Regions from separate parts of the Homo sapiens genome. Here all the other regions are linked to region 3. The links come from fine-mapping of genetic effects on gene expression. A gene starts in region 3. Each other region holds a variant in brackets. All regions are shown on one strand. Distances are between the middles of the regions.

The links.
Region 1: its variant is fine-mapped to the expression of DNAJB6 in whole blood (INTERVAL, PIP 0.98).
Region 2: its variant is fine-mapped to the expression of DNAJB6 in whole blood (INTERVAL, PIP above 0.99).
Region 4: its variant is fine-mapped to the expression of DNAJB6 in tibial nerve (GTEx, PIP above 0.99). The same link has a PIP of 0.9 or more in breast, monocytes after LPS and unexposed skin.
Region 5: its variant is fine-mapped to the expression of DNAJB6 in whole blood (INTERVAL, PIP above 0.99).

The regions. Positions count from the first base shown.
Region 1 is chr7:157,302,619-157,308,924 of GRCh38, forward strand. No RefSeq gene overlaps it. Among named protein-coding and RNA genes, the nearest start is that of DNAJB6, 31 kb to the right of the region's middle. RefSeq lists enhancers at 53-322, 5,579-6,120, 6,121-6,306. The variant CA/C (reference allele first, on the strand shown) is at 3,633.
Region 2 is chr7:157,355,514-157,361,819 of GRCh38, forward strand. DNAJB6 (DnaJ heat shock protein family (Hsp40) member B6) reads left to right here. Exons shown (of 10, transcript NM_058246.4): 2 at 3,034-3,124. The coding sequence starts at 3,060. Among named protein-coding and RNA genes, the nearest start is that of DNAJB6, 22 kb to the left of the region's middle. RefSeq lists an enhancer at 2,262-2,311. The variant A/AG (reference allele first, on the strand shown) is at 2,927.
Region 3 is chr7:157,333,357-157,339,662 of GRCh38, forward strand. DNAJB6 (DnaJ heat shock protein family (Hsp40) member B6) reads left to right here and starts at 3,648. Exons shown (of 10, transcript NM_058246.4): 1 at 3,648-3,788. RefSeq lists enhancers at 747-826, 3,096-3,598, 3,599-4,102, 4,831-4,880 and silencers at 3,361-3,520, 3,711-3,920, 3,981-4,170.
Region 4 is chr7:157,366,020-157,372,325 of GRCh38, forward strand. DNAJB6 (DnaJ heat shock protein family (Hsp40) member B6) reads left to right here. Exons shown (of 10, transcript NM_058246.4): 4 at 483-542; 5 at 1,354-1,464. Among named protein-coding and RNA genes, the nearest start is that of DNAJB6, 32 kb to the left of the region's middle. The variant A/G (reference allele first, on the strand shown) is at 3,390.
Region 5 is chr7:157,389,629-157,395,934 of GRCh38, forward strand. All of the region lies in intron 8 of DNAJB6 (DnaJ heat shock protein family (Hsp40) member B6), which reads left to right. Among named protein-coding and RNA genes, the nearest start is that of DNAJB6, 56 kb to the left of the region's middle. RefSeq lists an enhancer at 617-1,217. The variant T/C (reference allele first, on the strand shown) is at 3,078.

The DNA.
Region 1 (6,306 bases), 31 kb before region 3:
AAACCGCCTTGTCATCAGCGTTGCTTGGTGAGCACAGCCCCAGGCACAGCCCCAGGGCTCGACTGTCTTTCTGAGCCCAACTCCCTCCTGGTGGGAACATTCAGTATGTCTTCCTCGGAGGAGGCCATGTCAACCCTGACCCAGCCACTCCCTCTATCTTCTTCTTCTTCTTCTTCTTCTTTTGAGACTGAATGTCGCTCTGTCGTCCAGGCTGGAGTGTCGTGGTGTGATCTCGGCTCGCTGTAACCTCTGCCTTCTGGGTTCAAGTGATTCTCCTGTCTCAGCCTCTCAAGTAGCTGGGACTACAGGCACGAGCCACCATGCCCAACTAATTTTTGTATTTTTAGCAGAGGTGGAGTTTCACTATGTTGGTCAGGATGGTCTCGATCTCTTGACCTCATGATCTGCCTGCCTCGGCCTCCCAAAGTGCTGGGATTACAGGCATGAGCCACCACGCCCGGCCCTGTATTTTTTATTTTTTATTTTTTATTTAGTAGAGATGGGTTTTTCTCATGTCGCCCAGGCTGATCTTGAGCTCAGGCAATCCACCTGCCTTGGTCTCCCTAAATGCTGGGATTATAGGCACGAGCCGCTGCGCCCGGCCGATCTGCCCTTCTTTTTTTGTTTGTTTGTTTGTTTGTTTGTTTTGAGACGGAGTCTCCCTCTGTCTCCCAGGCTGGAGTGCAGTGGCGCAATCTCAGCTCACTGCAAGCTCCGCCTCCTGGATTCAGGCCATTCTCCTGCCTCAGCCTCCCGAGTAGCTGGGACTACAGGCACCTGCCACCACGCCCAGCTAATTTTTTCGTATTTTTAGTAGAGACGGGGTTTCACCGTGTTAGCCAGGATGGTCTCGATCTCCTGACCTCGTGATCCGCCCGCCTCAGCTTCCCAAAGTGCTGGGATTACAGGCATGAGCCACCGCGCCCGGCCTCTGCCCTTCTTTTCAGTTGCTGCATAGTCTCCATTGCATGGTCCTACTGTGTCCATCTCATCAGTTCCTTAGGAATTAGTGCTTAGGGTAGCTGCAGTCTCTGCCACTCTCACCATGGCTGCAGAGCGTGTCCCGGCATATATTTAATGTGTTTCACTTTGTCTACTCCTGCAAATGGATCTGCAGACGTTCCTGTCAGTGGAATTGTTAGGTCAAAGACGATGCATGTCTTCCTCTGAGTATTGATTGTCACGTCTCTCACACTGACATATGCTACTGATTGCAAATCTATGTGGATGCTGCTGTATCAAATAACATTCAAATTAGTCGCAAAGGAAAAGAGAGATGGATTCCTTTCATATGAATTGTCCAACATAGGCAGGTGCACGGGGACAAAGTGGAAGAAGGGGAGAGCCTGTGATGGATCTGAGGTGGTTGTTGTTTTTGTTTTGTTTTACTGCTCCTTGTGGGGTAGGTCCTCCTCGTAGACAGTGTGCCCAGCATAGCCCAAGGTTTCTTTCTTTCTTTTTTTTTTTTCTTTTTGAGACAGAGTCTCACTCTGTCGCCCAGGCTGGAGTGTAGTGGTGGGATCTCGGTTCACTGCAACCTCCGCCTCCCGGGTTCAAGCGATTCTTCTGCCTCAGCCTCCTGAGTAGCTGGGACTACAGGCATGTGCCACCGTACCTGGCTCATTTTTGCATTTTTGGTAGAGACGGTGTTTCACCATATTGGCCAGGCTGGTCTTGAACTCCTGACCTTGTAATCCGCCCACCTTGGCCTCCCAAAGTGCTGGGATTACAGGCATGAGTCACTGCGCCCGGCCTGCTTTTCATATTTTAGAGATGGGTCTGGTGATGTTGCCCAGGCTGGAGGGCACTGGCCATGGTCAGCACAGAAGCTCTTAACCTGCTCCTGTTCCCCGCTGACATGGGCTCGTTCACCCCACCTTGGGCAACCTGGTGGCCCCCAGCTTCCAGAGGTCACCATATTGATGCTGAATTTAGCATGGACACCTAATCAATTTAACACACTGCAGCCTCAAGCTCCCGGGCTCACACAGTCATCCTACACTCCTGGCAATTCTGTTTTAGGAATTTAACTTTAGGAGATAGTAAAAGATAACTTCTTTTTTTTTTTTTTAAGTTGAGACAGGGTCTCGCCTTGTCTCCAGGCTGGAGTGCAGTAGTGCACTCACGGCCCACTACAACCTCAGCCTCCTGGGCTCAGGAGATTCTCCCACCTCAGCCTCCTGAGTAGCTGGGACTACAGGCACGCGTCACCATACTCAGCTAATTTTTAAATTTTTTTTGTAGAGATGGGGTCTCGTTATATTGCCCAGGCTGGTCTGGAAATCCTGGCAGCAAGTAATCCTCCTGCCTCAGCCTCCAAAAGTGCTGGGATTACAGGCAGGAGCCACCACCCTCGACCCCAGCAAAAGATAACTTTTAAAAAGAATATAGTCGTGATTCATACAGATATAAAATGAGCATGTGTTAAAAGATTTCATGTAACTCGTTCAGATGTTACAACTGGTTTAAAAATAATTCCAAGAACCACACACATATAGGAAATGTCAAAGAAAGAGTCAAACTGTAAAATATTTGAAGAAATTTATTCTGAGCCAAATACGAGTGACCATGGCCCATGACACAGCCCTCAGGAGGTCCTGAGAACATGGAACCAAGGTGGTTGGGGCGCAGCTTTATACATTTTAGAGAGGCATGAGACATCAATCAAATGCATTTAAGAAATACTTTGGCCGCGTGCAGTGGCTCACGCCTGTAATCCCAGCACTGTGGGAGGCCGAGGCGGGTGGATCACCTGAGGTTAGGAGTTCGAGACCAGCCTGGCCAACATGGTGAAACCCTCGTCTCTACTAAAAATACAAACAAATTAGCTGGGCGTGGTGGCAGGCGCCTGTAATCCCAGCTACTCAGGAGACTAAGGCCGGAGAATCGCTTGAACCCGAGAGGCAGAGGTTGCAGCAAGCCGAGATTGTGCCACTGCACTCCAGCCTGGGTGACAAGAGCGAAACTCCGTCTAAAAAAAAAGAAAGAGAGAGAGAGAAAGAGAGAGAGAGAGAGAGAGACTTGGGTTTGGTCCAGAAAGGAGGGACGACTCAAAGCGGGGGCTTCCAGGCTATAGGTAAGTTTAAACATTTTCTGGTTGACAATTGGTTGAGTTTATCTAAAGACCTGGGATCGACAGAAAGGAAATGTTCAGGTTAACATAAAAGATTGTAGGCCGGGCGCAGTGGCTCACGCCTGTAATCCCAGCACTTTGGGAGGCTGAGGCAGGTGGATCACCTGAGGCCAGGAGTTCGAGACCAGCCTGACCAACATGGTGAAACCCCGTCTCTACTAAAAATATAAAATTAGCCGGGCGTGGTGGTGCATTCCTGTAATCCCAGCTACTAGAGAGGCTGAGGCAGGAGAATCACCTGAACCCAGGAGATGGAGGTTGTAGTGAGCTGAGATCATGCCACTGCACTCCAGACTGGGCCACAGAGTGAGACTCTGTCTCAAAAAATAAATAAATAAAAATAAATAAAATCAGCCGGATGTGGTGGCACATGCCCGTAATCCTATCTACTCAGGAGGCTGAGGCAGGAGAATCGCTTGAACTCAGAGGTGGAAGGTTGCAGTGAGCCAAGATCGTGCCACTGTACTCCAGTCTGGGCAACAAGAGCAAAACTCTGTCT[CA/C]AAAAAAAAAAAAAAAAAAAGATAAAAGATTGTTGGGTGGGTGCAGTGGCTCACACCGGTAATCCCAGCACTTTAGGAAGCTGAGGCAGGAGTTTCACTTGAGGTCAGGAGTTCAAGACCAGCCTGGCCAACATGGTGAAACCCTGTCTCTACTAAAAATACAAAAATTAGCCAGGCGTGGAGGCGTGCACCTGTAATTCCAACTACTAGGGAGGGGCTGAGGCAGGAGAATTGCTTGAACCTGGGAGGCAGAGGTTGCAGTGAGCCGAGACCGTGCCACTGCACTCCATCCTGAGCGAGAGAGCAAGACTCCATCACACACACACACACACACACACACACACACACACACACAAAGACCGTGGAGACCAAGGTTTTTTTGAATCTATCGCGGCTGCCCTTAGAGACAAAAGATGACAAATGTTTCCTGTTCAGATCTTTAAAAGGTGCTAGACTTTCAGTTACTGTCTTCAGGATTGGGAGGGCCTGGAAGAAAAAGATCTATGTTACTAGAGACTCTTTACAGATGCATTTTTCCCCCACAAAGGATGCTTTGCAGGGCCATTTCAAAATATGGCAAAGAAACATGATTTGGGGTAAAATATTTTGATTTTCTTCTTTGTCATGTAATGTTATGCCAGAGTCAGATTGGAAAGTAAGTCACGTTATATAGGGTTAAAGAAAACCCATCTGTCTCTGAAGACGTCCCGCTGAGCCCTGGTGGACTTGAATCCACTAGGAAAGCTCAACCCAGCACAGCTCTCTAAGTCAGCATCCCAGTAAATGCACGTGGAGAGGAGGTTGGGCCAGGGCCACACAGAGCCTCAGGTCCGACATCTGCCAAACAAGACACCAGCTGTGTGCAGCCACAGCTCCTTCATGAAACTCTTGGGACCCAATGTGCTTTGGAACTCGGAATTTTCCCAAACTTTGAAAAGTCGATTCTGCACATATACTATGGTTCTGTTCCATCCCATCTCCGGAGGGTAGGCAGCAGAGTGTGTGCAGGTCCACACTGGCCATCAGTAGCCTCAGACCAATTATGTCATATTTTACAACCAAGGAGTTTCTTAAAAATGTACTTTCTGACCGGGCGCGGCGGCTCATGCCTGTAATCCCAGCACTTTGGGAGGCCCCGCCACTCTAACTAGGTGAACTCTCCCTCGCCCGAGGCTCCAACCAGCTTCCACCTCCTGGTTTGTCCACTCCGCTTCACGGCCACACCTCTGACTGCGCTTTGAGGGCTGCACCAGCTGTGTGAGCATCTCACCTGCTCGTCGGACAGACTTGGGTTTCTCGGTCCCCTGCTTCTGAATTATCTGCTCCCATCACCTGCAGGCTTTCTTCCGCATAACAAGGCAACGTTTGTTCACCAGACCCATTCTTCCTGGACCACCCCAAAACTTGTCTCCATCACACCCAGAAACCCCAACTCCTCTTCCTTTCTGTAGCTCAGAATGCCATCCAGGCCTCCGTCATCCAGCCCTTCTTTGCTTCTTATAGCTCTGCGGAACTATACCAGGAAGGGGTCCTGATCCAGACCCCAAAAGAGGGTTCCCGGATCTCACGCAAGAAAGAATTTGAGGTGAATCTATAGAGTAAAGTGAAAGCAAGTTTACTAGGAAAGCAAAGGAATGGCTACTCCATAGGCAGAGCAGCAGCTTAGGCTGTCTGAGTAAGAATACTTATGGTTATTTACTGATTATGTGCTAAACAAAGGGGTGGATTATTCATGAGTTTTCTTCAAAAGAGGTGGGCAGTTCCTGGAACTGAGGGTTCCTCCCCTTTCTAGACCATATATGGTAACTTCCTGACGTTGCCATGGCATTTGTAAACTGTCAAGGCAATGGCGGGAGTGGTTTTTAGCAGCTAATGTGTTATAATTAGCATATAATGGGCTGGGGAGGTGGCTCACTCCTGTAATCCCAGCACTTTGGGAGGCCGAGGCAGGTGGATCACGAGGTCAGGAGTTCAAGACCAGCCTGGTCAACATGGTGAAAACAAATACAAAAATGAGGCTGGGTGCGGTGGCTCGCGCTTGTAATCCCAGCACTTTGGGGTACCGAGGCGGGCGGATCACGAGGTCAGGAGATGGAGACCATCCTGGCTAACACAGTGAAACCCCGTCACTACTAAAAATACAAAAAATTAGCCGGGCGTGGTGGGTGGGCGTCTGTAGTCCCAGCTACCCAGGAGGCTGAGGCAGGAGAATGGCATGAACCCGGGAGGCGGAGCTTGCAGTGAGCTGAGATCGCACCACTGCACTCCAGCCTGGGCGACTGAGCAAGACTCCGTCTCAAAAAAAATACAAAAATTAGCCAGGCATGGTGGCAGGTGCCTGTAATCCCAGCTACTTGGGAGGCTGAGGCAGGAGAATCGCTTGAACCTAGGAGGCGGAGGTTGCAGTGAGTCAAGACCGCGCCACTGCACTCCAGCCTGGCGACAGAGCGAGACACAGTCTCAAAAAAAAAAAAAAAAAAATTAGCATATAATGAGCAGTGAGGACAACCAGAAATCACTTTCATCTCGGTATTTGTGGGTTTTAGATGGCTTTTTTTTTTTTTTTTTTTTTTGAGATGGAGTTTCGCTCTGTTGCCCAGGCTGGAGTGTAGTGGCACGATCTTGGCTCACTGTAACCTCTGCCTCCCGGGTTCAAGCGATTCTCCTGCCTCA
Region 2 (6,306 bases), 22 kb after region 3:
AAGGCAGATGGAGAGAGAAGTTGGACAAGGAGAGCTGGGAAACGTCTGTGGGTGGTGCTGTGGGTTTTTTACTGACCTTAAATAAGAGCCTCCAGTGGCAGGCAGTGGGGAGCTGCAGCAGGACTGGGGGATGAGTCCAGGCAAGGAAGTGGAGCGGCTAAGGGTAAGCAGTGCAGGAGGAGCGCAGAGGTGAGGGCATCCACTCCAGGGGGTGGCTCTCATACTGCCTTTATGCTTTCCTTGTAGGGTAGCCTTCATTTGGTAAGGAAACTAGCCATTTGATGGAGTGCTGCATGAATACCGAGTGCTGTTAGTGGATGCTGCACGTACATGACAGAGCAGGCTTTCAGTGAGAGTGTTTTTGGTGGTGAAGTAAATCACAGCATTCCCCAGCTGGCCACGCGGCCCTCACCCACACCCACGTTCTCACCTCTGTGCTCACTGCCTCGGGAGGTGTCTTCCTCCCATTCCCACCACCATATGCACAAACACAGGCACACAAGTGCAGATAGAAGATGAGCTGTTTGGACTTGCGAGGGCATGTGTGCTTGGTGTGTGGCACATTGAATGGCCTCTTGCTATATATAGTGCTCAGAGGGGATGATCCAGATGTCTGGCATGGGGAGACTGGTACTGAGATTTCTGCTCTTGTTCTGTTAGTGAGAGTGGATTAGCAGCTTCCCTCTGTTTCTGCTAGGTACTGCCACTGGCATCACTGCCAAAATGCCACCTCAGATCGTTGGCAGCAAACTGGAGCTGGAGTGAAAATAACCTCACGTAGTCACTCAGCCAAGGGAATGAGGGAGACGTGAAGAAACGCTGGCTTTCCTGCTGCTTGTTGCCTGCTCTGTCTTGTGTGCTGTGACTGATGGGCAGGTTTTTAGTTACTGAAAGAAGATTGCGGTGTTCCTACTTACGGGAGTCGACTCCTGTCTTTTCTCTAGAGACTGGTCGGACCTGTGTGGCTTGAATCCTGTATGTTGCCATGTCATTCTAACTACCAGGGAGGAAATCTTTCATAACTAGGGGTTCCTTACCTTGTAACTTATTACATGAAGTCCCTAATATTTTATATTGATTATTTCCAAATGGAGTGGAAAGAACTGTGCAGTGGTATACCCTTAGGCACATTCTCCAATTAATATTTTATCTTTGTTTTATTATGTATCCAGCAAAGCTGATAACGTTAAATTGGAATAATTACAAGAAAATAGGAACAAGTTTTTTTCTAAGTTGTAATTTTAAAAATACTGGGAACAAATCTACTTAAGAAAAAGAACATTTTGATACTCTAAATTCCGTATCTTGTAGTTGGCATATTAAACTTAACACCTAGAATCTTTGCTGTCATGTATTTGAAGATGTACATTTCTTTTCTAAGTTTGATGTTAGTCATTCTGTCGAATTGATAATGTAGTTTATATACATCTAAATAGATCCTGATTTCCATTATAGTTTTTTGTTTTTTTGATGAAAGGACTTCCATAAAAACAAGAGTTTTAGGTCCAGGTTTGGTGGCTCATGCCTGCAGTCCCAGCACTTTGGGAGGCTGAGGTGGGAAGAATCCTTGAGCCCAGGAGTTTGAGACCAAGATCAGCAACAAAGTGAGACCCTGTCTCAATTAAAAAAAAAAACAAAAAACAAAAACCAAGAGTTGAAGTTTCCACAGATGTGTCTTTGTGGCTTTGTGATACTGTTGTCCTTCCTTCCTTCCTTCCTTCCTTCCTTCCTTCCTTCCTTCCTTCCTTCCGTCCTTCCTTCCGTCCTTCCTTCCGTCCTTCCTTCCTTCCTTCCTTCCTTCCTTCCTTCCTCGTTCCGTCGCCCGGGCTGGAGTCCGGTGGCATGGGCTGGAGTCTGGTGGCACGATGTCAGCTCACTGCAGTCTCTGCCTCCTGGGTTCAAGCAATTCTGCTTCAGCCTCCCGAGTAGCTGGGACTACAGGTGTGCACCACGATGCCGGCTAATTTTTGTATTTTTAGTAGAGACAGGATTTCACCATGTTGGCCAGGCTGATCTCGAACTCCTGACCTCAAGTGATCCACCTCCCTCGGCCTCCTAAAGCGCTGGGATTACAGGTGTGAGCCACGCGCCCGGCTGTGCAGATTCTTGATTGTTGTTTTAAAAGAGTAGGTTAGCCAGTCAAATTGAAAGAAGTAAATTGGTTAGGAAACGTCACATCTTAAAGCAGCAGTGTGCGTAGTTCCTCCTTGTGGGACCAGAGGCTACATCCTCCATTAGAGCTGGCAGAAGCAGAATGGGTTTCATTGTACATTTTACTGCCCGGGGAAGTAACAAGGTTGAACCACGTAATCCATAGGGGAACTTAGAGAATGAATCTCTGCTGCTGGTTTTCCACCTTCCATTCGGTAGTGATACTATCTAATTAGTGTGGTCAACAGGGCAATATTGTATTTCTTTGGTAGAGGAATGGATGGGAGCTTGGAACCAGAGGGTAAAGTTAACGCTAACTGCTGTGTAGTCAAAGGTCTTTCTCTCTTGGGAGATGTGTGGGAGGGCTTTTGCTGTTCCCTCGTGTGGGTGACAGAATGGTGGAAGGATGGCTTTCTATTGTTCCCATGTGAAGTTAGTTCAGGGCAGGGACAACGTGTTTGTCCTTGGAGCCCCGTGGTCTTGCCCGATGCCTGGCACAGGAATGCATTGAATGAAAGAGGTAACTGACGTTCCCTGAGCACAGACCGTGTCTAGGAACACATGACAGACTTTGTCAGCTAGTGGTCAAGTGGCACGGAGTCTCTGCCTAGAGTCACCTGTTGTTTAGTTTAGGCTATTATTAGGCTATTTCAGAGCTTTTTTCCCCGTCTCTAGAAGGGTCTTAGGGCATGAATCTGGGAACCAGTTCCCAGACAAGGTCTTGGCCCAGCAGGCTAGTGGTTAGCTCTAGTGGAAGTTCCCTCTGTAGGCCAGT[A/AG]GGTGCTAAGGTGACACCACCCCTTCCTCCCTCTCCAGACCCATCCCACCACCGTGATTTGCCCATCCCCAGCAGCCTCATCACTGACCACCTGTTTTTACTTGCAGGACCCATTCCAACAATCTCGTAAAACATGGTGGATTACTATGAAGTTCTAGGCGTGCAGAGACATGCCTCACCCGAGGATATTAAAAAGGCGTAAGTAGTTTTATTTCTGTGGTAATGCATTTTCACAGTGGTACATTGGTAATTGAGTAGTATAACTTCTTCTATTGCCTATGAAAATGGCTTTTAATGTAGTATACCAGTCTTTGAATGCCACATAGTTTAATTTGACAGAGCAGTTAACGAGCATTTGCAGTCTAGGCCTGGGCTTTGCTCTTCATTAGTCAGTCACTTGGTTTATATCTGAAGTTGATGATTGTTTCACTGAGGATGTGAGATAATCCCAAACATCTTTTACATTGGACTTTGAAAATGGAGCTGACTTGGCATTCTTGAGTGCCCCTTTGGAAGGCAGGGGCCCAGAGTACATAGCACTCAAATTTTCTTGTTGTGATTGTTGGGCTCCGGCCTATGCCACTGGAGTCCCTTCTGATTCATATGAAAGTTCGAGAACTGCAGCGCTGCCTGTGGTACCTGCATCTGTGTGACCAGGGCCTGGCCATTGTGAGGAGGGCAGTTCAGCCACAGAAGGCTCTCACGGTAACCTTAGTCTGTTTAATTAATGAGGTGTTAACTGTGAATGTAGAGTATACAGCAAAGACGTCATGAAACAGATTGTTAGATTTTAACATAGCTAGAGAGCAGTTAGCCTGGAATAGTTGGAACCAACTTAAAAAAATTGTTAATAAATAATGGAGTGTCTATACTGCTAGACTTAGTGGGTCTGAAGATAGAATTAACTTTTTTGGGGGCCAAATAGTTCATTTTGCTTAATTTTTAAATTTTAATAAAAATACAGAGTCTCAATATGTTGCTCAGGCTGGTCTCAAACTCCTGGGCTCAAGCGATTCTCTTGCCTTGGCCTCCCAGATTGCTGCGGTTATATTTGTGAGCCACTGTGTGTAGCTGAGATAGTTCATTTTAAAATGCTAAATTACGGCCAGGCAAGTGGCTCACACCTCTAATCCTAGCACTTCGAGAGGCCTAGGTGGGAGGGTCACTGGAGCCCAGGGGTTTGAGACCAGCCTGGGCAACAAAATGAGATACTGTCTTGACCAAAAAAAAATAGTTGGGTGTGGTGGCACATGCCTGTAGTCCCAACTGCTCCAGAGGCTGAGGCAGGAGAATTGCTTGAGCCCAGGAGGTTGAGGCTGCAGTGAGCTATGTTCGTGCCACTGTGTTCCAGCTTGGGCAACCAAGCCGAGACCCTGTCTCAAAAAAGCCAAGTCAGGATGGCTGACGTTGCCTGAAGGTTATTTGAAACCTCTGCCGAGGAACCTAGTAGAAGCAGTCTACTGAGGAGAGGTCAGGCAGGCCCTGATGCTGTCACTAGTAGAGTGAGGTTTCCCACACTGTGAGGAAGCCTGTGCTGCACACTTGAGGCTCACACTATTCTTATCAGTAATGTTAACAGCCAGGCATACTTGACAGATTATAAGACGAAGACAGTTGGGAATACCTTACTCCTCTCGAATAAGTTAATGGATGTATTAGTCTGTTTTTACGCTGCTGATAAAGACGTACCTGAGACTGGGAAGAAAAGGAGGTTTAATTTGACTTACAGTTCCACATGGCTGGGGAGGTCTTACAATCATGGAGGAGGGCGAAAGACACTTCTTACATGGCGACAGCAAGAGAATGAGGAAGAAGCAAAAGCGGAAACCCCTTATAAACCCATCAGGTCTTGTGAGGCTTATTATCAGGAGAATAGCACGGGAAAGACTAGTCCCCATGATTCAGTTACCTCCCCCTGGGTCCCTCGCATAACACCTGGGAGTTCTGGGAGTTACAACTCAAGTTGAGATTTGGGTGGGGACATAGCCAGCCCTTATCAATGGATAAGCATAATATGTGTACAGTGCTTTCAGTAATGATGGAAATTACATACCTTTATGATAGAGGTCATTAGAGAGTAGATTGGTTTTAGTTGTTTCTGAGAACATACAGGTTGCTGAGTGTCTCTAGCATGACGTTGAAGTAGGAATTTAGAAAAGGCTGTTACCTTTAAAAGCAGTGAGATTTCCTGCACTCCTGAGTGTACAGTTGTATAAATGCTGACTTTTAAAAATGAGCAGAATGATAGCTATGGGGGCGTGCTGTTAGTCTATCTTGTGTACCCTTGGCTTTGTGTGTTGACAGTTTTTGATTGAAGACTTAAAGGTCTGTGGCTGCCACCTGTTCTGCATCTCTCCTGAGATACCAGACTCTTCCTGGGTTTGAGTCACACACCATGGGCCTTCCTTCCTTGGTGCTGAAGTACTGGTGTGCAGGTCCAACAGATCTGAAGGTCAACATTCAAAGTCATTTGGCACTGTTTACACTTGCATATCGTGTTGTATTACACCTTGATTTTTAAATATTTTAGTAGTGTATGACTGGGGCATACACAGTTGAATCTTGTCCTGCATTCTCATCCATTGCCAAGTTTTCATATGAACACTAGATGATAGGTAGTACTGCACACTAATCATTTTTTCTCTTTTGTCTTTTGTATGGTCTGTTATTTTTGACTGAGGATTTCTGGCACATTTAGGGTTATTTGATCCACTGCTACACGTTTTTTTTTTTTTTTGAGACGGTGTCTCGCTATGTCACCCAGGCTGGAGTTCAATGGCGTGATCTCGGCTCACTGCAACCTCTGCCTCCCAGGTTCAGGCGATTCTCCTGCCTTAGCCTCCCGAGTAGGTGGAACTGCAGGCGCCTGCCATGATGCCCAGCTAATTTTTATATTTTTAATAGAGACGGGGTTTCACCATGTTGGCCAGGATGGTCTCGATCTCTTGACCTCGTGATCTGCCTGCCTCAGCCTCCCAAAGTGCTGAGATTACAGGCATGAGCCACTGCGCCCGGCTGCTACATGTTTGTTTAGGTCCACAGTGACATAAATTACTGTTAAGTATTCTGGACTCCAGCTTTAATCAGATTTTAGTATGGTTAAGCCAAGGTTTTGTTGAACATGTTGTAAGTTAAATTGAGCCACAACAGCTTTACAGTAATAACTTGCCTAGTGTTAAAAGCACTGTCAGATTAGTATACTAGTCTGAAATTTTGAGGGGTATGCTGCTTCTCTTTTTTAACGTTACCCTCCTTTTGAATATATGCTGCTTAGGTTTTGCTAATTAGACTAGAGGATTTTTTTGTATTCATTCATTCATTCATTCATTCATTCATGCATTCATGTTGAGCCGGAGGCTCGCTCTGTCACCTAGCCTGGA
Region 3 (6,306 bases):
ACATGGGGTTTCGCCATGTTGGCCAGGCTGGTCTCGAACTCCTGACCTTGTAATCTGCCCACCTCAGCCTCCCAAAGAGCTGGGATTATAGGCGTGAGCCACTGTGCCTGGTCATAATTTTCTATGTATTTATTTTTGAGACAGGGTCTGTGTTGCCTAGACTGGAGTACAGTGGTGCTCTACTGAAGCCTGGACCTCCCTGGGCTGAGGTGATTCTCCCACCTCAGCCGCCTGAGTGGTTGGGACTATAGGTGTGTGCCACCGCACTTGGCTAATTTTGCTATATTTTGTACAGATGGGGTTTCACCAAGTTGCCCAGGCTGCTGTCGAACTCTTGAGCTCAAGCAATCTTCTCGCCTCGGCCTCCCAAAGTGCCAGAAAAAAATAATTTATTTTTGGTAGAAATGGGGTCTTGCGGTGTTACCTAGGCTGGTCTGGAATTCCTAGGTTCAAGCAATCCTCCTGCCTCAGCTTCCCAAAGTGCTGGGATTACAGGTGTGCACCACTGTGACCAGCCTGATACGCGTTTTAATGTGTGTGTGTGTGTGTATATATATATACACACACACACATACACACACATATATTTTCTTTTTCGAAGGGGGAAAAGCTATTTGTGGCTAGCCTACCACTTACAATGTAAAATTCATGTCTGTGCTGCTTACATTTCAAGATGAGCTCACAATCACTGTAGGGACGTATTGACATGTAAAATGTCCCATGATAGTACTGTCTGTCCACACTGAGATGGAACTAAACCTCCATCAATCTGCAAGCAGATAGGTTACATGTGACAGTGCCAAGCTGTGCACATATCTGAAATTCCAGTCTTTGCTGAGATTATTTTAGGTTTTATTATGAGATGCCCATACTAACACAAACTATTATTTCTTCCTTTTGAACAGTCATTTATATAACCAGTAAAAAAAGAGAATAGAGGCTGGGCTTGGTGGCTCATGCCTGTAATCCCAGCACTTTGGGAGGCTGAGGTGGGTGGATCACCTAAGGTCAGGAGTTTGAGACCAGCCTGGCCAACATTGTGAAACCGCATCTCAACTAAAAATACAAAAAATTAGGCATGCATGGTTGCTCATGCCTGTAATTCCAGCTACTCAGGAAGCTGAGACAAGAGAATCACTTAAACCTGGGAGGTGGAGGTTGCAGTGACCCTAGATTGTGCCACTGCACTCCAGCCTGGAGGACAGACAGAGAGACTCAGTCTCAAATAAGAATAGAGAATCCAGTCAGATTTTCCTTTGCTAACTGATCATTTGCTAGAAATGACATGCAGTAATACAATTAAAGTTTAAGAAACACAAAAAATGAGCCCAGCACAGCGGCTCATGCTGGTAATCCCAGCACTTTGGGAGGCTGAGGCAGGAGGACTGCTTGAGCCCAGGAGGTTAAGGCTGCAGTGAGCCATGATTGAACCACTGCACTCCAGCCTGGGTGACAGAGCAAGACCCTGTCTCAAAAAAAAAAAAAAAAAAAAAAAAAAAAGGGCAGTATTTCATTTTGAAGTATAACAATTACAGCCATTAACCAAGTGTTCCAGTTGTCTAAAATGAGGCAGGTGTAGACGGAAAATTTTCCCTGTACTCTCTGAAGGTTTCACAACTGAGTCTCTGAACTAAGCTGACAATAGACAGATTCGTAAGAGAAAAAGTATACAAATCTATAACATGTACTAGGGCATCCCAGAATCCAGTGAGATCTGGAAGCTTATACAGCCCCTTCATAGAAGAGAGGGGAGGCAGATGCAGGCAGCTCAGGGGAGAGAAAATGATTTTTTGCCTTCAGAATAGGTGGTGGCCTGTGGCAAAATCTGTCTGGGTGTGCAGCTGACGTCCCTTGAAGCTCTTCTCCCGTGATCCTGGCTCATTCTTCCCTGGATGAGACTTCCAGGGAGGGGGTCAAGACAATTGAGTCCCTTTGGGATGATCTGTCTTTATGTAAATAATGGGGGATTCACAGAATGCCCCTCCCTGCATTGGCAGGTCCCCATGTGCCCTCAGTTTGAGGGCATACTAATGTGGTAATCAGTGAACTAGTTAGTAATCAGTATCCTAATATGGCATAATTCAGGGTGGCATTTCTCCAACTCTTTCATTACTAACGAGCTATTTTAAACCAAAAGTGATTCAAGTGTTAAAGTGCCTTTTACTTGAATATCTCCCAGGCTTAAACGATCACGAATTCATAAGCGTTGTTAGTTCAGAAGGTGGCTGAGCAGGCCCCCGGAATTCAGTGTCAGCATGCCACAGGATCTGAAGTTCAGGAAAGGTGTAACAAAAAGGGATTTTTCTTTTTTCTTGAGACAGAGTTTCGCTCTTGTTGCCCAGGCTGGAGTGCAATGGTGTGATCTCCGCTCACTGCAACCTCCTCCTCCTGGGTTCAAGCGATTATTCTGCCTCAGCCTCTGCAGTAGATGGGATTACAGGCATGCACCACCACACCTGGCTAATTTTTTTTGCATTTTTAGTAGAGACGGGGTTTCTCCATGTGTCAGGCTGGTCTCGAACTCCCAACCTCAGGTGATCCGCCCGCCTTGGCCTCCCAAAGTGTTGGGATTACAGGCGTGAGCCACCGCACCCAGTTGAGATTTTTATTTCTTAAAGGAAAGGATAAGGTGGGCCAGGACTAAGACAACACAGTAGCAAACATCTGGCTGAATGCTGGAGAGGAAGACAGTGGGAGATCCAGGCCAGGCTCCATGGACGAACTGCTTGTTGGCTCCTTAGGCTTTGGGTCTGCGGGACCCTTTCGCTACTGGGAATGGGAGCCTGTCTGACTGCACTGGGTCTGAGACTCCCTGCTCCTGCTGGTCACCATCTACACGCATGTGGTGTTGGTCTCCAGGGTTAGAACCAGAACCCCTGAGGACGCGGGAAAGGCTAGGAAGCCTGGGGATGACCTAAAGTCCAGCTATCAAAATGCGCCGCGTTTTCAGAAAAACTACTGCCACGATTTAACCTAAAAAGCTTCATCTGTATTTTCTGCCACAGTTTGCTTCCGTTTCCTTCAGTCACTATTCCCTGGCGAAGTCTCCACGCGCTCCCGTTCGCCGGGGAACTTAGGGTATCCGGGCTTCCCTAAATTGACAAGCGGGGGCCGGCGCCTTCGCCCGCCTTCGCTGGCCGCCGCTTGGTTTGTTCTTCTTCTCCTTCGGGGACTTCTCCGCCCGCGCCCGCGCCCGCGCCCCAGCTTTCGTCCCGCTGTGCGGAGATGCCACCCAGCTCCACCGCAGGACCGCGGAGCGAGAGGCGGCAGACGCGCTCCGGGGGCCGCCGGTCAAGAGGAAGATGAAGGGCGCGACGACTTCGCGGTTTCCAGAATGGGCTCCTTCTGGCCCAACAATAAGTGCCATTTGGAATCTTCTCGGCCTTCTCTGTGCCTTCCGCGCGTCTGGGCTCCCCGGTACCGTAGACCCGGCCCCGAGCTCCGCCCCCTCGCCCTGGGCTTCCCCGCCCCCTCGCCCCCAGTCTCCTGGGCTCTTCGGGGCGGCGGAAGAGCCGAGAACCTTCGCGAAGGTGGGGCGGGCGCCCCCGAGGTTGGGCCCGCGGTATGGGCAGTGGAAACTGCGCATGCGCGGCGTCAGGGTCGGGCGGAAGTTGACGCCGCCGTGCCGCCGCCGCGTGACGCATTTCCTGTTTGTTGTTGGAGAAAGGAGAGAAAGGAAAGCGCGAGGAGCCGCCGCCACCACCAGCGCAGCAGTCCTGGAGCTGTGAGGAGATTCGGGCCGTCACCCTGCCTCCCCTGCGTCCCGCCACCGGCCGCTTCTGTCCTCGGTGAGGGTCTGTTCCGAGGGTCGGGGGAGGTCGCCTAGGGCCCCGCGCGCGCCCGGCAGACGGCGGACCTCACCCGGCGCCTGGCAACAGCGCGGGGGGTGACCGGGGTCGCCGGCCGGGGAAAGGACTGGACGGGGCGGGGGCCGTGGCCGGGGTTGCGGGGCGAAGGGTGGGCGGGGTCCTCTGGGTCAGGTCTGGGGCCGGGGCCGGGGCTGGGGTCTGGGGCCGCCCGGCCGCGTCCTCCCCGCCCGGCGTCCTTGCCGGAACGCGGCCCAGCCTCCGCGGCGGCGGTTGGGGGTGGGGCCCGGCCTGGGAGCGGCCGGCTGGGGCTCGGCTGGGGCTCGGCGGGGCCGGCAGCGTGGGAGGCGTGGAGCGCCTTCTTTTTCTAAGGCTCCCGCACTCGCGTCTGAAACCAGAAACGGGAGTGGCTTGCGGAGCAGGAATGCCGCAGCCGTGCCGCCAAGTTCGGAGGGAGAAGAAGCAGGTGGGGGACCGCAAAGCCCTGTTTCTAGAACTCCGGACGGATTGTTCAGAAGTTTGTGGAAGAGCAGGCTGCCTTTCTCACTCAGAATGTTTGTCTGCTTTGCTTTGCGTTAAAGAATCTGCACCGTAGTTGATGCAACTGAAGTTTATATAAGAAGTTTACATTAACTCTTACCTAAGGAAGGTCAGTGACACACGCAGTGTAAACTGCAAATCATATATTGGCTCGAGAAAGGTTTTGGCACTAGCGAATTTTTTAAAGGATGGGTTTGCTAGTCAGACGTAAACTTCTGTGCTAACTTCTCACGTAAACGGGGCAGGAAACAGCGCAAGTAGAACGATCGTGCCACCACCGAAGGGGTGCCGCCTGCGAGCTCGGAGGCTTCAGCCTGTTTGGGAAGAGTAGGCTGAGCGGCGCTCTTTGTAGTTTTCAACGTTTTTATTGAGTTGCGAATTTTAGTAAGGATTTGTCGCTACAATTTAAGCCAAATTATTGATTTAGTAGAAAAGTTAGAGTGAAGACCGAAGAAAGGAAACAGACGTTAACCATTAAAGCTTGATTGCTGCTGCTTCGTGTTTAACCGCACTTTTCCAAATAGTGTTGCGTATCAGAACGATTCATGATTTCTGAAAGGAATTATATGCAGCCGCCTTACTCCTCCGCCAGTCCACCCGTCCCGCGTTCTCTCTGGGTTTACTCCAGACTTCCTTTTTTTTTTTTTCCTGAGACGGAGTCTGTTCTGTTGCCCAGGCCAGAGTGCAGTGGCGCGATCTCCACTCACTGCAACTTCCAGCTCCCAGGTTCAAGCGAGTCTCCTGCCTCAGCCTCCTGAGTAGCTGGGGTTACGGGTGCTCGCCACCATGTCCGACTAATTTTTGTATTTTTAGTAGAGACGGGGGTTTCACCGTGTTGGTCAGGCTGGTCTCGAACTTATGACCTAAAGTGATCGCCTGCCTCGGCCTCCCAAAGTGTTGGGATTAGAGGCGCGAGCCACCGCGCCTCGCCGACTCCAGACTTGTTTCCACTCCTGAGGGCCTTAAGCTCCCTTGGAGTTTGTGCTTTCACATTTCTTTCTGCCTTCCGTGATAAAGGGATGAATAGTTTTTATGCACGCTTCAGCGAGCTGCGGGTTTTTGTGGATTACGCAGGCTGTGAAATTTGGGAAGTAAGTTGCCTTAAGTTGGTAGATGTGGAGATTTGACAGGAAGTGGGAGAACAAAGGGGTTGGGAAGCTTTTGGAAAGTGTCCAGGCTTCATCTGTGCTGTGGAAGGTGAGAAAGTTGGGAATTCCAGAGGGCAGAGCTCTTAAAGAATTTGAGATGAGTTCAGCACTCTCTTCAAAACAGTGTTTTAAAATTTATTTTCTTCTGGATATGAAAGTGTTAGGTTTGGGAAGTAATTCTGGCTGTAGGACAGTTTTTCCGGAACACTAGGTGGGGAGTGTTGAATGTTGTGAAGACTAAAATATGCATATGGTATTACAGTGTGATACCTGTTACTGAGTGGCGTACATTAGCTTTCATTTTTAAGCAAGCCCGTAATTCCCTTCTATTAACTCTGTTTTGGACAGTGGTACCCGTCACCCTCATCAGTCTTCAACCTAGATAACCTAAATCCAGGTCTGAGGTGGGGGTGGAATGGTCTGTTTGCACCTTTTTTTTTTTTTTTTTTTTTTTTTTTTTTGAGACGGAGTCTTGCTCTGTCGCCCAGGCCGTAATTAATGCGGTGGCGCGATCTCGGCTCACTGCAAGCTCCACCTCCCGGGGTCACACCATTCTCCTGCCTCAGCCTCCCGAGTAGCTGGGACTTCAAGCTTCCGCCACCACAGCCGGCTAATTTTTTTGTATTTTTTTAGTAGAGACGGGGTTTCACCGTGTTAGCCAGGATGGTCTTGATCTCCTGACCTCGTGATCCGCCTCCTCGGCCTCCCAAAGTGCTGGGATTACAGGCATGAGCCACCGCGCCCGGCCTTTTGTGTGTGTGTGTGTGTGTGTGTGTGTGTGTGTGTGTGTGTGTGTGAGATGGAGTTTAGCT
Region 4 (6,306 bases), 33 kb after region 3:
GGCTCACCACAAACTCCGCCTCCCGGGTTCCAGCTATTCTCTTGCCTCAGCCTCCTGAGTAGCTGGGATTACAAGTGCCTGCCACCACGCCTGGCTAATTATTGTATTTTTACAAGAGATGAGGTTTCACCATATTGGCCAGGCTGGTCTCAAACTCCTGACCTCAGGTGATCTGCCCACCTTGGCCTCCCAAAGTGGTGGGATTACAGGTGTGAGCCACCATGCCTGGCCGTAAATACTTAAATATTTCTAATAACTTGTAAAAATTCAACATACTGAATTTTTTTTGAATTGTTTTTCAGGAGAGAGGTACAGAAAGTTTTCCCTGTTGCTTTGTTTTGTTTTAAAGAAAAGGTGGCCATACTCCTTGAAATTCAGTTGTAAAACATCGAAAACTGATTTACAACTGGGGAAATACCTTATCTATTGAATTAAGGGTTTAAAAGGAACTTGGCCTTACCGACTTTTCTTTCAATTTTTAGCTAAGAAACGGGACATCTATGACAAATATGGCAAAGAAGGATTAAATGGTGGAGGAGGAGGTAAGTACGTGAGTTTTTTCTTTGAAGACAAAAGGTCTTGGCAAGTAAGTTGAGTTTGTAAATCACGAGTCTCTTGGTCAGAGTCGATTTTGTATCAGTAAATAGAGATGCAACGTAGAAAGCGAACTAAATTGGGGAGAGGACAGAGAAATTGATGGCATTTAAAAGTCTTTTACGAGACTAGAAGTATATGTTGATGTATTTTTTATAGATAGAAACAATTTGTAACCATACTGCAATATATTGTGAACATATACCCTTAGATCAGCACTTGACGTTATGTCAAAATATCCTAAGGGTTTAAAGAGCAGATTTTCCTGAAAAGCTAAAATAATGACTTTGAAGGGCGTGGACTTTGTCCCCAAAAGTTCCCACGGTCACTGGGCTGTGACCAGCCTCCCCAGGGGTGTTGGGAAATTATTGCTCCAAACCCACTGGGGCCACGCGGCAGCTTCTGTGGCTCCAGGAGGCCAGTCGTCGAAGTGGATGCAGATACTCTTGGTCTTCATAAACCTTCATAACAAATCATAAAAATGGTGTGTAATGTTACATGTTATATGCCGATCACGGATTTAGAGATGGTGAAAAGTAGTGTCGAAGGGGCCACTGCTGCACTCATATGCCATCAGCGCTGGGCACACTCACTCTCTGTCAGTACAGGGCTCATGTTTTGAATTATAGAGAACTTCAGGTTTATGAAATATTTTTGTTTTTATTAGTTCATGATTTGTATAATGTTTTGTCAACAAAGAATTCTTTGCCTACAAAGCACCAAAATTCATAAACTAAAAGCTGTGTTGTATTTGTGCAGGTGGAAGTCATTTTGACAGTCCATTTGAATTTGGCTTCACATTCCGTAACCCAGATGATGTCTTCAGGGAATTTTTTGGTGGAAGGGACCCATTTTCATTTGACTTCTTTGGTAAGTTAATCACGTGGGTTGACTTGGTGTGTGTCCATGACCCAAATGAGGGCTTACTTAGTATGGCCTTTCTGTTGAATTAACATTGTATTTTAGGCTGGGCGCGGTGGCTCATGCCTGTAATCCCAGCACTTTGGGAGCCTGAGGCGGGCAGATCACCTGAGGTTGGGAGTTCAAGACCAGCCTGACCAACATGGAGAAGCCACGTCTCTATTAAAATACAAAATTAGCCGGGCATGGTGGCGCATGCCTGTAATCCCAGCTACTTGGGAGGCTGAGGCAGGAGAATCACTTGAACCCGGGAGGCAGAGGTTGCGGTGAACTGAGATCATGCCATTGCATTGTTGTCTGGGCAACAAGAGTGAAACTCCTGTCTCAAAAAAAAAAAAGTTAACATTGTATTTTGTCACGAAACTTTGTGTTTAAAGCAGCATTGGACTAGCCTGAACAACATGGTGAAACCCTGTCTCAACAACAACAAAAAAAATACTAAAAATTAGCTGAGTGTGGTGGCGTGTGCCTGTGGTCCCAGCTACTTGGGAGGCTGAGGTGGGAGGATTTCCTTGAGCCTGGGAGGTTGAGATTGGGCCACTGCACTCCAGCTTGGGTGACAGAGCAAGGCCCTGTCTCAAAAAAATAAAACAGCACAGTAGCTGTAAAATCTTTTCTCTTCTTCCTCTTTGAAAATTTAAGTTACAGCTTGAAAAATTAAAATAATAAAGGGTTTAATGTATTTTTTTCTTTGTTATGTATGGCCTTAATTAACTTGCTTTTGCCCTCAGAAGAGACAGTGGTAAGGGCATGGGTGCGAGTGTCTTGGAAACGTTGTTTCCCATTGAACAACCAATTGGTGTGTGAATTTGCCACATCATATTCCTGGTAAAATCATTAAGCACCATAGTACTGTTGGCAAGACCTTTCATCCGTAAACATTGTGTGTGAGGACTGTTGTTGAGAGTTTGCGGAAAGGCACCTCTAGAGCAAGACTGCGGAGGCCTTTGCTGAGGAGAGAATGGTTTTGTTAAGGGAGACAGTGCTGTTATAGCTGCTGTTTGATTGTAGGAAAATGGATTTCTCATCAGTGGCATCTCAGTCCTGATGCCTGGTCCTAGGCGTTGGTGTATGTCTTGGGCACAGTTTGGGTCAGGCACTTTTGTTAGCTGTCTCCTGTTAGAGTCTTCTCAACCACTGGGACTTCCTGAGTGGTGCACTGGGTGACCTGAGAGGTCAGGATTAAACATGTACTCCTGTAGTTGTTTTTGTCTTTTGACTTATTGAAAGGGAAACACATTGTATGTTTACCTCCTTCATTGCCTGGAGCTTGGGTGAAGAAACTGAACACCACCTGCAACTCGAGGAGGGAAAGAGAAGAGTAGTTGTGTCTACAGATAATACAGGGGAGAAACGTGGAGCTCCTGCCTGCCGCAGGCACGAAGAAGCATAATCACTCTCATATCTGGTAGGTCTTGGGCCTTTTGCATGGTGCAGTTCTTCAGTGTGTCTCAAATGGGGATTCAAAGAGGTTGTTCTTACACCTTATTATGGGCTGGCTGGCTTGAAGAGAGCCCCTTTCTGAGGGAGGAAGGACAGTCAGTGGCCTCAAGCATTTTCAGGGAAACTGAAGCTGAGCAGGCGATTTCCGATTAGGGGACCGGGAGACTGGCGTGCTCATCGTTTAAGTGCATTTGCTGTAATCACTGCTGCCATCAGCAGAAACAGAGCTCAAGAAAGAACCATGTTTACATCCGTCCTTCATCAACCCTCACAGGCAAGAAATATTTCTCTAAGAAAAATAATTTACGGATTGATCTCTGTCTTAAAAATGACCTTTGCATCTTGCTGTAGCCTTCAGCAAACTGCATTTGTTGCTTTGCAGGACAGGGCAGTGTTTGGGTTGAAGTCCTGTGTTCTGATCGGTGATTCTC[A/G]TGGTGACCAAGCGAGGAAGAAGGCCCGCTCTTCCAACACCATGGCTTCTCTTCTGGGGCACACGAGGTGAAACGGGCTGTCCTCGTGATGTCTGAGACCGGGCGTCTTCAACAGGCCCTGCTTAACATTATGATTAAACAGGGCTTTCTTACCATTATTATTAAACAGGCCGTTTCTCAACATTATTATTAAATAGGCCCCTTCTTAACATTGTTATTAAAGAGGCCCTTTCTTCACATTATTATTAAACAGGCCCCTTCTTAACATTATTATTAAACAGGCCTTTCATAACGTTATTATTAAACGGGCCCCTTCTTCACATTATTATTAAACAGGCCCCTTCTTAACATTATTATTAAACAGGCCTTTCATAACATTATTATTAAACGAGCCCCTTCTTAACATCATTATTAAACAGGCCTTTCATAACGTTATTATTAAACGGGCCCCTTCTTCACATTATTATTAAACAGGCCCCTTCTCAACATTATTATTAAACAGGCCCCTTCTTAACATTATTATTAAACGGGACCCTTCTTAAGATTATTAAACGGGCCCTTTCTTAACATTATTATTAAACAGGCCCCTTCTTAACATTATTATTAAAGAGGCCCTTTCTTAACATTATTATTAAACAGGTCTTTCATAACGTTATTATTAAACGGGCCCCTTCTTAACATTATTATTAAACAGGCCCCTTCTTAACATTATTATTAAATGGGACCCTTCTTAAGATTATTAAACGGGCCCCTTCTTAACATTATTATTAAACAGGCCCCTTCTTAACATTATTATTAAAGAGGCCCTTTCTTCACATTATTATTAAACAGGCCCTTTCTTAACATTATTATTAAACCGGCCTTTCATTAACGTTATTATTAAATGGGCCCCTTCTTAACATTATTATTAAACGGGCCCCTTCTTAACATTATTATTAAACAGGCCGTTTCTCAACATGATTATTAAACAGGACCTTCTTAACATTATTATTAAATGGGCCCTTTCTTAACATTATGATTAAACAGGTCCTTTCTTAACATTATGATTATTATTTTAATTCAAAGGGGAAGGGTCCCTTAGTGACTGAATTGTAGCTAATTTTTGTTTTCCTTGGGGAAAATAATCTGATACACCAAGCCATAGAGCAATTACTTGTAAAGAAGGTATAGAGATCTAATTAGATGTGAGTGAATAAGTGAGTTTTTACCCCTAGTCCAAGGAGAGAGGTGCTAGTCTTACTGAAGCGCTTTACTGTTAAATGCTCCATTTTACATGCAGACCTATTTTAAGACCAGGTACCCTGTGTTTCCCATGATTAGTGTGGCAGTGATACTTGTTCATTCCGTTCTTATAGGTGTTCTAGATGACTTCCATTTTCAGGCTCTCAGGATTTACACACTGGGGAAGCTGCTGCTCCATGGCTGCTATATGTATGTAGTCACTGAGCAGCCTGCTGACGGTATGTTTAATGTAGATGGGTGTGGATGCAGAGCCAGAGGGATTTCCGCTTATTCATGATGTAGTTCAGGGGTCAACACCCTGGTCTGTGGCCTGTTACGAACTGGCCTGTTGGGAACAGGAGGTGAGCGGCGCGCAGGCAGGCAAGCATTACTGCCTGAGCCCCACCTCCTATCAGCTCAGTGGCAGCATTGGAGTCTCATAAGGGCACAAACCCTATTGTGAACTGCACACGCGAGGGACCTAGGTTGCGCATTCCTCATCAGAATCCAGTATCTGAAACCATCCCCCTACCCCAACCCATCACCCACTGTGTGGAAGAATTGTCTTCCATGAAACCAGTCCCTGGTGGCAAAAAGGTTGGGGACCGCTGTTGACAAATCATATTTACTAGACCTGGTGTACTTTCCACGTGACGAAAAAGTAGTTTAAAATGTGCTGTAAGATATTTCCGAGCTGCACTTTACATTTATCAGAATGCAGAACCCCTGCTGTACTTCAGACCTCCCTCATGATAGGTGGGGAAGGGTGAAGGGGTGCCGGATGTTGGACACATGGTATGCAGGTCTGTGCCTGAGCACCAGGCAGTGCTCACTGTCACACTGTGGCCAAGGAGACTTGGGCCTGGGGCCTGCGGTGTGGAACCCGTCCTTTACAGAAGAAGCCCTCCCAGGAGAGGTCGCGGAGGCGGATTCTAACACCAGCCTGGAAGGAATGCTGCCTCTGAATTGGAGGGGTACAATCAAAACTGCTGAGGCTAGGTGACTGTCGAAATTTCCAGAATGTGGAGCACATGCAAATGAGCTCTTGTCGAAATGTTAATTGGAAAATATTAATAGGCAGTGGACTTATTTGAATTAGGATGCTCTCTTTATTTTATTATTAGAGGACCCTATTGCTCAGTGAAATGATGTTCTGAGATAGGAAAGAAAGGGTACCTGATAATAGTGCCTTTTGATCCCATTAGTCACAGCAGGCATTACATCTGGGAAAAGCCTGTGGGTTTAACTTCACATTTTATTTATATTCTTGGAAAACCAAAGCGAACCTTTAAGGTTTCCAGAGAGGCCTTTTATTTTAGCAGTGCAGCAAGTTTTTCCTTTGTAAAGCATCACTGTGGTACGAATGATGCTCTGTAGCAATAGAGGAGGAGTCCTGTGGTATGTAGAACCAAGGAAAGCAGACTTCTTGCAGGAAAAATGAGTGCATTGAGGATAGTAACCTGACTTTCTGACCTGTGATTAAATTATGATAGTAGTCAGTCATTTTACTCTCCCAGGGTTTGAGGAAGTGGCCGGTGAGGACTTGGAGCCTAGTGAGGAGTTAGTAGAGCTGCCCAGGGTGGAGGAGGCCACAGAGGACAGCCCTGGTGAAGAGAACAGTGAGGCCTTGGATGTGTTGATATCCAGCAAGGACCTGGCACTGTCTAGTGAGGACGAGGCCTGCACAGGATGTAAC
Region 5 (6,306 bases), 56 kb after region 3:
GTACTAAAGTGTGACCAATGGTTGAAATGGGGTAGACCGAAGTCTGTCATTTGGCTACGTTATTTCGTCTTCCTGTTTAAAAAGGTGAAAAGAGGGAATGTCACAGCAGCTATTCCTGTGTTAGAAATCTAGACGTCACTGATTTCCAGAGACAGCAGAGTTTATGATTGGGCGTTAGAAGGCCTGTCCTGGCTTCTGTGCTTTGGTCAGTATTTGCTGCCTTTTGTGCAGGGTATCAGTCGGTCTTACCTAACTGTTCACTAAGGACTCGACTCTGAGCTTTGTGGCCTGGGCAAGTTGCACACTCAGGGCAGACCCCTGACTGCGCTTTGCCCTTTTCCCTGTACCCTGATTGGGAGAAGATTCCTGCCTCGGAGTGCAACCCCAACAGGAATGCAGGTCCTGTGAAGGCAGTAATTCTCGTCTGTCTGGCTGCTGCTGTGTCCTGGCAGGTGTGCCCTGGAAGCATCCCGTGAGTGCTGGCTGCGGAAACCCAGATGGTGGTTGCTGTCCCACAGCCCTTGATTCAGAGATGCCCTGGACCACAGCTGCCTGGAGTGTAGAGCAGAGGCTTACTCCCCACACCCCTCCTGCTGTGCGACCTGCGGCCCAGCCTGCTGTTGGAGGCTTGCCATGTGGATCCGAAGGACCTGCGTCTTGGCTTTACAAAGATTCTCCACTCCTGGGAGCCCTGACTAGCAAACGTCTGTGTAGTGTTGATGCCACACTGCAGTTGTTAACATCGCGTCCTTTTCTGCCCTGTTAGGTTGGTTTCTCTCTTAAACAGGGCAGCGCTGTCATCCCATTCCCCCGCCTGGTCCTTCCTCTTCCCCCTAGCTGGTTACTGAACTGACTGCCATTCAGGCACTGATGGGAAATCACTTCCAGAACTTGCAAAACCATAGAGACCGGAGGTTTTCTGAAGGAGGCTTTGGTGCTGAAACATTGCTGCTGAAACATTGTTGCAGAAATGTGGGGTGGAGCCTCCTTCCTGCCCGTCTCACCCAGGGGATGTGGTTTGCTTCCCGTGTGGTCAGCGCTGTGCTGCGAGCTCTGAGAGGTGACCTTTTCCTCTGCCTTCCCACAGCTGCCCTGAGTTGGCAAAAAGTGCTTTGCCCAAGGACAGGGTCTAATTGATAATGGCGTGTGGGGGAGATGTGGCTCCTGAGGCCTGGAGCATGCATTCATTCATTCCTTTATATTATTTTATATTTTACTTAACTTTTGGACCAGTTCTCTCTCTCTAACCCAGGCTGGAGTACAGTGGTGCAGTCACAGCTCTCTGTAGCCTTCAACTCCTGGGCTCAAGCATTCCTCCCACCTCAGCCCCTAAGCAGTTGGGACTACAGGTGTGCGACACAACGCCTGGCTAACTTTTTGTATTTTTAGTGGAGACAGGGTTTTGCCGTGTTGCCCAGGCTGGTCTTGAACTCTTGGGCTCGAGCGCATCACTCACTTTGGCCTCCCAGAGTGCTGGGATCACAGACATGAGCCCCCACTCCCAGCCCAGAGCATTTTACACCAGATGTCAGGACATTGCTGGTAGGAACAGCAGTTGGAGCAGAAGCTCGGGGTGTGGTCATCAGGGAACTGTGGAGTTTGCAGCCTGCGTGAGACACGTTTCGTACACACATTTCTGCCAAATTGAGAACTTTGCTGCTCGTCAGCTCTAAGCCAAGTAACCTCTTACCCAAAACTTCCAGGGATGCTTTACATAATGCCAGGCCTCTGAGAAAGTCAGCTGCAGAACTTGAACGAGAAAGTGCTGTTTTCCACGAGTCTTTTCAGCCGTATCTTTCCGTGTCCATGGGTCAGTGGTCCCTGCACAGATGAATTGGCACTGGACACGGCCTCCTGCGGTGGCTGCTGGGGGCTGAGCCTTCCCTGCCAGTCCCTGCCAAGCAGGAAAGACAAGTTTCCCTCAGTTGGGGTCTGTGCCCAGCATGAGTGGTCTATCTAGTGAGTGGCTGGGCACAGTTGTCCCCATCCATGGCGGATGCCTGGTGGCAGCACCCACTGGGTCTCAGCCCAAGTCTTCCGTGGATCCTGGCAAAATATTGATGTCCTTTTCCACATAATATTTAAGGTATTTGTGTAGAGTCTTATGTACTTGCAGGAGCAGTTGGTTAAATTAGGTACCTAGAAGTTGAGTAATTGGCTTGAGAAACGTGTGCATTGAAAATCGGTAAGTTACCAGGCGCAGTGGCTCATGCCTGTAATCCCAGTGCTCTGGGAGGCTGAGGTGGGTTGATTGCTTTGAGCCCAGGAGTTCAAGACCAGCCTGGGCAACATGGTCAAACCACGTCTCTACAAAAAATATGAAAATTAGCTGGGCTTGGTGGCGTGCGCTTGTAGTCCCAGATACTCAGGAGGCTGAGGTGGAAGGATCACTTGAGTCAGGGATATGAGGCTGCAGTGAGCCGTGATCGAGCCACTGCACTCCAACCTGGGCAACAAGGAGACCCTGTCTCAAAAAAAAAAAAAAAAAAGGATAGTCATAAATGATTTCTTAGAAGGAGTCTTCTCCTATCAACAACGGATTGGGGTCTGTGTCCTCACGCTTGCTAGTACTGTCTGTCAACAGTTTCTAAAATTTGCGTCTTGGCTATCCAGGGCAAGCATCTTGTGTCACCTGCGTGTGCCTCTTTTTCTGTGGACTTACTCTCTTGATTTTATAGGAGCCCTTTACATGCTAGTTGATTAGTCTTTAGCCTGCTGTGTTGAAAGTGGGTTTTTTTTTTTTTTTTGGTTTTTCTTTTGTTCACGTGACTTACTGTGTGGTAGTCTTAATTATTTACACAGATGTGTGTGTGCGTGCGTGTGCCTGTTACAGAGCTGCCCCATATTTTTATTTTGTAATCCTGTGTGTGTTTACTTTTATTTATTTGGAAAGGTTGTTGTGTGGGAAACAGCCAGCTTTGTCCCAGATTTCTTGCCCGCGTTTCTGCCGGACTCTCGTCCTGTCTGGTTTCTTGCACCCTGTATGGATGGCAGTGTGTGCATCCGGAAGCGCAGCTCCTTTCCAGCTCGTTTCTAGGCCAGTCTTCGTCGTGCTTTCAAATGAAAGGTGCAGTCAG[T/C]GCGAGGAACACCCCATGTAGATTTGGGAGAGCCTTTGACACCCGAGAGCCATGTGGCAGACTAATTTTTTTAACATCCTGTTTTACGGACAGCTGTAAAGTGCTGTCTTAATATGTAGGTGTGCACATTTCCTCATTGTATCACTACATGAAGCTGGGAATGCCGTCTGTGTGTGTTTTCTGTTCTAACTTATGGAAAACCAGGAAGTCGGTACGCCTTACATTGCTTTTTATCTCATCACTTTAGTCTTGGTATTCTGATTTTATTATATTTATTTTTTTGAGGCAGTGTCTTGCTGTGTCGCCCAGGCTGGATGGAGTGCAGTGGTGTGATCACGGCTGACTGCAACCCCTGCCTCCTGGGTTCAAGCGATTCTCCTGCCTCAGCCTCCCGAGTAGCTGGAATTACAGGCGCCTGCCACCACCCCTGGCTAATTTTTTTGTATTTTTAGTAGAGACGGAGTTTCACTATTTTGGTCAGGCTGATCCCAAACTCCTGACCTCGAGTTATCCCGCCCTCCTTGGCCTCCCAAAGTGCTGGGATTACAGGTGTGAGCCACTGCGCCTCGCCTATTCTGATTTTAAAAAAGAATTGGAATATCATATTTTTTACAATTGGAAAACTCTATAAATTTTCTAATTTTTACCCTTATTTTTCTTATTGATATAAGTATTTTTGTCTTGTTTTCCAGCAGGCTGATTTTAGTATTTTACTGTGTGATTATGTTTCTGAGAAAGATTAGTTACTGTGTTTATGTCCCAAAATTCCTCTACATGGCACTGTTGGGTTCTCTTGTACCTTGATTTTACTTTGGGTTTTAGATTCTGTAGAGAGGGTGAAGCTCCCGGCCCTGTGATCTTGAGGAGGGTGAGTTGGGAGCCGTCCATGCCCTGCCTACCCCAACACCAGGTTCAGCTGCCTGTGAAGTCATTTGTTTCGTGCACATTTCCTAGTTACTGGTATTTTTTAATCATTAAAAATGTTTTTAAATTATTGATAGTAATTGTACGTATTTGTAGGGTGCATGTGTGCAGTGGGTGATGATCAGATCGGGGTGCATGTGTGCAGTGGGTGATGATCAGATTGGGGTTAATGGCAGAGCCACCTCACAGTTACTGTTTTGTGTTGGGAACATTCAGAGCCTCTCAGAAAACTTTATTTCCTAAGCTGGTTTGTTGAGGGGTTTTCTTTCATATCAGTTTGCTAATTTATGTGTTCACTGGAAGCATCCACGGTGTTCTGAGGCCTGTGATCATGCGCCTTTCTCATTCTTTACATTTGTCCGTGTCTGAAGGTTTCCAAGTGTTTTCCTGTTGGTTTAGTTTCTCTCAAAAGAATACCTTTCTCATATCTTATTATTATCCTGAGTTTTTCTTCCTATTTTGGTTAGTTGTGCTTCTGCAGAATATTTATTTGCAGTACTTTTGTTCATAAATAGGAATGTTAAGAATTGTTTTTAAGTTCGACTTGTAAAACATTTTTGTTGACTTCTAAGTCGTTCTTTTAAATTTCTATTTTCATTCAAAAATAACCCATATGACATCTATTTTTTGGAAGGAAGGGTTAAGAAACAGCAGATGTTGCCTTGTCAATTCTGTGAGCTTGTATTCTACTGGATTTTTTTCTATCTTGCTTAAGAAATGCTGCCCCTGTGTATCTACCTTAAAAAATGTTTAAGTCCAGGCGTGGTGGCTCACGCCTGTATTCCAGCACTTTGAGTGGCTAAGTGGGTGGATCGCTTGAGCCCTGGAGGTCGAGGCTACAGTGAGTCGTGATGACACCACTGCACTCCAGTCTGGTGATGGAGTGAGACCCTGTCTCAGAAAAAAAAAAGTTGAAAATATGAATCCATCTAGAACATTTGTGTGAAGTGGCCTCACTTTTTCCTCCTCTATGGACAATTTGTCCTTCCTCCATGATGAATTGTGATTTAATTTTTAATGATTTGCTTGTCTGCAGCTTTTTTGGGAGGAACTTTATTGGGATTTGCCCATCATGAGTACATTTGTTAAGGATGGGTGCGATTTCCCTCTTGTGAAGAAGCAACACATCACAAGAGCAGATTTTGTCCCCGCCTCTCAGCGGAGCTTAGAACCATACAGAAAGTGGGCCAGACGTGGTGGCTTACGCCTGTAATTCCAGCACTTTGGGAGGCTGAGCTGCGTGGCGGGTGGATTGCTTGAGCCCAGCCTGGGCAACGTGGTGAGACTCTGTCTCCACAAAGAATAGAAAATATTAGCCTGGCTTGGGGGTGCACGCCTCTAGTCCCAGCTACTCAGGAGGCTAAGGTGCGAGGATTGCTTGAGCTGGTGGAGGTCAAGGCTGCAGTGAGCCAGGATTGCACCACTCGGCACTCCAGCCTGGGCAACAGAGCAAGACCCTGTGCCCGCCGCGCCCCCCCACCTCCCAAAAAACCCCAGAAAGCAGAGAGTTAGCTGTTTGTCTTCCCCATCCGGTATTACCAGGGCTGGAAGCATACTTGAGAGCACTACGTTTAATGGGCAGCATTTTGGGAGGGGGCTGGGGGGGGGTTGGTGCTGGGCACATCTGGCCACTTAATGTAGTTAAAGCAATAGCAACTGAATGAAAAGCTCTAACATGAATTCATCGTTTCATCTGTTATCTGACTTTTAACATTAACATATCTAGTTCTGCTTTTGTCTGTCTTTTAAAGAGAATTGCATGGGCAGCTTCTCTGTTTTTCCTGCGTATGCAGGAGCTTAGCTTTGGGCTCCTGAGCTCAGGCCTTCTCAGCTCTGATGAGCTTCAGGAGAGGCAGTTGGAGGTTGAATCTGGGTGGTGTATGCCTTCTTATGGAAGTCCCTGATGGGAAGACAGAGGAGCTCTGAGAAGAAACTAGAATGACTTGTCATTACATTTTTATGTGGAATAAGATTCAGATGTCTTTAGAAAAATAAAATTTTGTGAATATGCGAGTCTGCAAAAGTTACAACATTCATTCTACGTTTTTTCTTTTCTTTTTTTTTTTTTTTTTTGAGACGGAGTCATGCTCTGTCGCCCAGGCTGGAGTACAGTGGGGCGATCTCGGCTCACTGCAACCTCTGCCTCCCTAGTAGCTGGGATTACAGGCCTGTGCCACCACACCCGGCTAATTCTTTTTATATTTTCAGTAGAGACAGAGTTTCACTCTGTTGGCCAGGCTGGTCTTGAACTCCTGACCTCAAGTGATCCACCTGCCTTGGCCTCCCAAAGTGCTGGGATTACAGG